2 linked regions of the Homo sapiens genome follow. The protein of the gene in region 1 purifies or fractionates together with the protein of each later gene. This does not show direct contact. Each region holds a gene or a part of one and is shown in the gene's direction. Other genes may lie near its edges.

Evidence for each region. The genes of interacting proteins can lie anywhere in the genome.
Region 2: the proteins of NEK4 (region 1) and TUBA3C purify together in Homo sapiens (affinity purification with mass spectrometry, with the first as the bait; 2 studies listed by BioGRID). This does not show direct contact.

Annotation. Positions count from the first base shown.
Region 1 is NC_000003.12:52,707,944-52,711,940, reverse strand, and holds the end of NEK4 (serine/threonine-protein kinase Nek4), read left to right. Parts: intron 1-71; coding exon 72-164; 3' UTR 165-3,497; downstream 3,498-3,997. UniProt on the Homo sapiens protein: Protein kinase that seems to act exclusively upon threonine residues. Required for normal entry into proliferative arrest after a limited number of cell divisions, also called replicative senescence.
Region 2 is NC_000013.11:19,176,049-19,178,824, reverse strand, and holds part of TUBA3C (tubulin alpha-3C chain), read left to right. Parts: intron 1-430; coding exon 431-579; intron 580-1,217; coding exon 1,218-1,898; intron 1,899-2,776. UniProt on the Homo sapiens protein: Tubulin is the major constituent of microtubules, a cylinder consisting of laterally associated linear protofilaments composed of alpha- and beta-tubulin heterodimers.

The DNA of each region.
Region 1 (3,997 bases):
CTTCCTCTAAGATTACAGAAATATTTTTTCCTACTACATACTGATTGATTTTCTTTTTGTTTCTCAAATAGGTACGTTTGCGGGAGCACATGGGTGAAAAGTATACAACTTACAGTGTGAAAGCTCGCCAGTTGAAATTTTTTGAAGAAAACATGAATTTTTGAGCATTTGTCCTAATCTGCTGCCAGAATTAAAGACCTATTTTTAGAGGATTTTGGCTTAAAAAGCAAGGGCAAACAGTCATTTGGAAGCCACTCACCACTGTTTTATATCTCTTTTTTATATCTCTTTGGCGTTTCCCTACAGAAAAGAAATTGGACAGAACAGAATAATATGAAGCAGGATCACAAAAGAAAAAAAACTTTGGCTTTCATATTCTCTTTGTGAGGACAAATCTGTTGTTTGTTTGATTACTGTTTACTGAGCCTTAATCCACCAAGTTTATATTTAGAATTTTATTTTTTTAAGGTACTAATTAACTTAAACACAGAGCTATAAAATGCTGGATTGAAAATTTTATATTGTAATGTAGAGATAAAAGCAGTAGGAGAAACAAATGACATAATATGTCGTCATAATTCCTGCTATTGTTAATAACCTTAAGGAGTAGTTGATAAATTATAAAATTTTAAAAAGTCAATTCAGTTCTAGAAATAGATTTAAAGAATATGAAGTTCTATCTAGTACTTGAGCAGCTGTATTTCTTTTCTACACATTGATGGACTTTTAATATTTTATTCTCATTTAATATAAACCTCATCTAGGGTATATACAAATTAAAACTGAGACACATTGGCTTTGTAAATCAGTATGTTTTTACATAATGGTTTTGTTAGATTTATTTTTCCATCAGTGAAAACATTTCTTAAACACAAATTTCATTTCCATTTAAGCAATTTGTAAGCAAAGTCCAGGTCCATTTAGTTTTTGGATATATTTAATGTTTGTCTCCTGAAGTTTGTCTTCATGTACTGTAAGATATTAGTTGTCTTTCCATGTTTTAAATGTATGATTATATAGCACATATTTTATTAGTTGTTTAATAAGAGGTAATACCCATCTAGGAAAGAAATTTTATGAAGTTAAATACAAGTCTTGAATAGTACATTTTCACTTCTGTATTCGAGGGACTCTAAAAATAAATATTGCTCCAGAAATGTTTTCAGGTGTTTTTTTTTTGAGACAGAGTTTCACTCTGTCAGTCAGGCTGGAGTGCAGTGGCATGATCTCAACTCACTGCAACCTCCACTTCTGGGGCTCAAGTGGTATTCCTGCCTGAGCCTCCCTAGTAGCTGAGACCACAGGCGTGTGCCACCACACCTGGCTAGTTTTTGTATTTTTTGTAGAGACAGGGTTACACCACATTGCCCAGGCTGATCTCAGAACTCCTGGGCTCAAGCAATCCACTCACCTCAGCCTCCCAAAGTGCCAGGATTACAGGAATGAGCCACTGTGCCCAGCCCTGTTTTCAGTTTCTATAACTAAAAATATATCTATCTTTGAAAATTACACACACACACAAATACTCTAATGAAATGTTCCCTTTACAGCCACTTAACAATTTTTTTTTTTTTTTAAGACACAGTCTTGCTCTGTCACCCAGGCTGAAGTGCAGTGGCCCAATCTCAGATCACTGCAAGCTCCGCCTCCCAGGTTCACTCCATTCTCCTACCTCATCCTCTCGAGTAGCTGGGACTACAGTTGCCCGCCACCATGCCCGGCTAATTTTTTTGTATTTTTTTAGTAGAGACAGGGTTTCACCGTGTTAGCCAGGATGGTCTCAATCTCCTGACCTCGTGATCTGCCCGCCTCGGCCTCCCAAAGTGCTGGGATTACAGGCGTGAGCCACCGCGCCCGGCACACTTAACAGATTTTTATTTAGAGTTTACTGTGTGCCAGGTTCTCTGCCAGGAGCTGGGGATATAGTGGTGAATAAAACAATACTTCCTGCCCTTTTACAGTGCTCACAGCCTGGTTTCTGATAACTCTTATTTTCACTTTGAAGGGTTTGCTAGAACTCAACTTGCAAAACCATCAAGTCCCAATGCCCAGTTGGGAACAAATCTTTGGCAAACTTGGTATCCTTGAGCTATTCACCTTTCCGTGCATGTTTTGGAAATCCACATCGTTCTGGAGAGTCATCAGTTTTACTTAATTTTTCTAATGTATTGGTATAAAGTAGGTATTTTATTAGAATTAAAGGAATCTCACCCATATCTTTTTTTTTTTTTTTTTTTTTTGAGACAGGGTCTTGCTCTGTCACCCAGCCTGGAGTGCAGTGAGGTGATCATAGCTCACTGCAGCCTTGACCTCCTGGGCTTAAGTGATCCTCCCACCTCAGCCCCTCAAGTAGCTAGGACCACAGGCATGCACCACCACACCTGGCTAATTTTTAAAATTTTTTGTGGAGAGGAAGTCTGTGTTGCCCAGGCTGGTCTCAAACTGCATTCAAGCAGTCCTCCTGCATCGGCCTCTGAAAGTGCTGGGATTATAGGCATGAACCACCACACCTGACTTCCCCCATACTTTCTTATTAATTACCATACTGTATATTTTTATTTTGTTTAAACATCTTTTCTTCCCACTTTTATCGTTTTTACTTGAGTGCTTAATTCATCTTCCTAAATTAATTTAAAAACTCATCTTTAAGACTGTGAATTTTCTTCCGAATATACCTTTGGCCACAGTTCAGAGACTTTGATGTGTTACTCTTTTGGCATTGGTTCTAAAATGTCAATCATTCTTTTTTTTTTTTTTTTGAGATGGAGTCTTCTTGTTGCCCAGGCTGGAGTACAGTGGTGCGATCTTGGCTCACTGCAGCCTACGCCTCCTGGGTTCAAGTTCCCCTCCCTCAGCCTCCCGAGTAGCTGGGATTACAGGCACACACCACCATGCCTGGCTGATTTTCGTTATTTTTAGTAGAGATGGAGTTTCACCATGTTGGCCAGGCTGGTCTTGAACTCCTGACCTCAGGTGATCTGCCTGCCTTGGCCTCCCTAAATGCTGGGATTACAGGCTTGAGGCACCATGCCTGGCCTAAAGTGTCAGTAATTCTGATTTCGGTTTTCTCTTTTAGAAGTTTTGATTTCCACAGACTTACAAAGCTAAGGAAGTTTTATGTCCTTGCTCTGGCTACACTGCAGTGTTACTGAATATCACCTGCACAACCTTTACTGCTTGCAGTTTTTTTTTTCCTGTTGCTTTGTACATGATCCGTTATTCAAATGGCCTTATAGGCATTCAATAAAGGTGAAATGTTAAATACAAAATCACTTGTCTATTAAATTTTATTCAAGGTTCTATATAAGATCTGATAAATGGAACTTTGTGATGGAAATGTTTTATATGGTAGCCACTAGTCACATATAGCTATTGAACCTTTGAATCATGGCTAGTTTTAGAGTTTTATATTTTAATTTTAATTAAATAGACGTGTCTAGTGGCACCATATTGTACAATGCAGTTCTCATTCAATAAATCTTAAGTACTTAACAATGCATCGTGTACTCTTCTATGTACTGGGTAGACAGCAGTGAGCAAAACAAAGTCCCCGTTCTCATGGAACTAATGTTCTAATGACAACTATTAATTACATACCATGAAATGTCTCAAACTCCTGGGCTCAAGTCATCCTCCTGCCTTAGCCTCCTCAAGTGCTGGGATTATAGGTGAGAGCCACTGCACCTGGCCAGAAGCACGAACTTCTAACTTAGGCTTTTATTAATTATCTTCCTTGCAGAATAATCAACAGAAGACCCTTTAGACAAAGAACTTGCACTATGAGGTTTAATTGGAAACATTAAAATGGTTAACTCATAATGAATTATAAAACTTTGATAGTTACATTGTACTATCATTTATGAGGCATTTATTTTTCATTATTTACACCTGAAAGAAACTTCATACTTGTGTGTTCTGTTCCCCATCTCAGAGCAAGATTATGAAGAGAAGGTCTAAACTACTTATATAAATCAAAACCCAACTGGGCTAGAAATGA
Region 2 (2,776 bases), on another chromosome or scaffold:
CACACAGGGTGCCCTGATGGGACTGCCCTGCAGAAGTCACACTGACCTGGTGACTTCTCAGTTTGTAAGCATTTTTAACTTACAGCCTTCGATGTAGCTACATGTAGGAAAGAATTATGTACCTGTAGAATTACCTGTGTGGGGGTGCTGGAGCTTATTTCCCTTCACTGGGAGCTGGTCGTGCTGACATTTATATTGTAAGCTGAGTTTCACTTCCTAGAGTCATAAATCACAGTTTGGTTATCACACATTTGCACTTTGGTTATCACACAGAGACATTTTCTACCAGACACTGCCACTGTTGACCTACAACATGTAGGTCATGTACTTTGAACAGCATGTACTTTGTAGAAGTGAACAGTCCTGGAATGTGTCCATCTTGGTGAGTATAGGCCTTAAAGATTCACAGTACATACGGTCTCTTTTGTAGATGAAGTGCGCACAGGAACCTATAGGCAGCTCTTCCACCCAGAGCAGCTGATCACCGGGAAGGAAGATGCGGCCAATAATTACGCCAGAGGCCATTACACCATCGGCAAGGAGATCGTCGACCTGGTCCTGGACCGGATCCGCAAACTGGTAAGAAGAGAAGGCTTCATGTGACCATTGTCCTGCACAGGAGGGTAGATCTTAGATTGTGAAGGGGAGGTCATTTTGTCAAAACCTAGACCAGTGCGTTGGCTGGGTCTGGTGGCTCACGCCTGTAATCCCAACACTTTGGGAGGCCAAGGTGGGCAGTCACCTGAAGTCAAGAGTTTGAGACCAGCCTGGCCAACGTGGTGAAACCCTGTCTTTACTAAAAATACACACATTAGTCAGGCGTGGTGGTGCCTGCCTGTAGTCCCAGCTACTCAGGAAGCTGAGGCAGGAGAATGGCTTGAGCCCGGGAGGCAGAGGTTGCACTGAGCGGAGTTCATGCCACTGCCCTCCGGCCTGGGCAACAGAGTGAGATTCTATCTAAAAAAAAAAAAAAAAAAACAACTTAGAACAGTATCTTGAGTCCTATTGCGTCTGCAATGGTCTTAGTCTGAAGTATGCATGGTGATTTGTCTGTAGATCTTTGTCTGCTTTTCTTTGCTTCAGAGTGTACTGCGTGTTTATTATGGATGATTGGAATCCATATCAAGTCTTCAGAGGCAGAGAAGTGGCCCTGGCTTGGTGGAGGTTGGTGGTGTGGCTTCCACGGGCATTGATTCATGTTGTCTGGTTTCCCTCAGGCGGATCTGTGCACGGGACTGCAGGGCTTCCTCATCTTCCACAGTTTTGGGGGTGGCACTGGCTCTGGGTTCGCATCTCTGCTCATGGAGCGGCTCTCAGTGGATTACGGCAAGAAGTCCAAGCTAGAATTTGCCATTTACCCAGCCCCCCAGGTCTCCACGGCCGTGGTGGAGCCCTACAACTCCATCCTGACCACCCACACGACCCTGGAACATTCTGACTGTGCCTTCATGGTCGACAATGAAGCCATCTATGACATATGTCGGCGCAACCTGGACATCGAGCGTCCCACGTACACCAACCTCAATCGCCTGATTGGGCAGATCGTGTCCTCCATCACGGCCTCCCTGCGATTTGACGGGGCCCTGAATGTGGACTTGACGGAATTCCAGACCAACCTAGTGCCGTACCCCCGCATCCACTTCCCCCTGGCCACCTACGCCCCGGTCATCTCAGCCGAGAAGGCCTACCACGAGCAGCTGTCCGTGGCTGAGATCACCAATGCCTGCTTCGAGCCAGCCAATCAGATGGTCAAGTGTGACCCTCGCCACGGCAAGTACATGGCCTGCTGCATGTTGTACAGGGGGGATGTGGTCCCGAAAGATGTCAACGCGGCCATCGCCACCATCAAGACCAAGCGCACCATCCAGTTTGTAGATTGGTGCCCAACTGGATTTAAGGTATGACTGGGTAATGTGGAGTCCTTGTACCTTTCAGCAAGCAACAGACACACAGAGTAATGCTGCCCCTGAAGGCCCACATCCTTTGAGGATACTACCCCTATTCCATGGGCTAGGCATGTGGGCATCAATTAGTGAACCAGAGTGATCATTAATTCAGTGATGTCTTTTTTTTTTTTTTTTTTTTTTTTTTTTTTTTTTGAGGCAGAGTCTAGCTTTGTCGCCCAGGCTGGAGTAAAGTGGTGTGATCTCAGCTCACTGCAATCTCCATCAGCCTCCCAAGTAGCTGGAATTACAGGCACCCACCACCACACCCAGTTAATTTTTATATTTTTAGTAGAAACAGGGTTATGCCATGTTGGCCAGGCTGGTCTTGAACTCCTGACCTCAGGTGAGCCACCCACCTTGGCCACCCAAAGTGCTGGGGTTAGAGGCGTGAGCCACTGTGCCTGGCCCAGTGATGTCTTTTGAACTCTTTCTAAGTCATTACACTATGTATCTGTGATGAGCTTTACTTACTTACTTTGTTGTTGAGAAGGCTGGAGTGCAGTGGTGTGATCTCGGTTCACTGCAACCTCTGCTTCCCAGGCTCAAGTGATTCTCTCACCTCAGCCTCCTGAGTAGCTGGGACCACAGACATGCACCACTACACCCAGCTAATTTTTGTGTATTTAGTAAAGGGATTTCACCATGTTGGCCAAGCTGGTCTCAAATTCCTGGTCTTAAGTGATCTGCTTGTCTTAGCCTCCCAAAATGTTGGGATTACGGGCATGAGCCACTGTGCTCAACCCTATTTATTTACTTTTTTGAGACAGAATCCCACCTGTCACCCAGGCTGGAGTGCAGTGTGGTGATCACAGCTCTCCACTAAAAATACA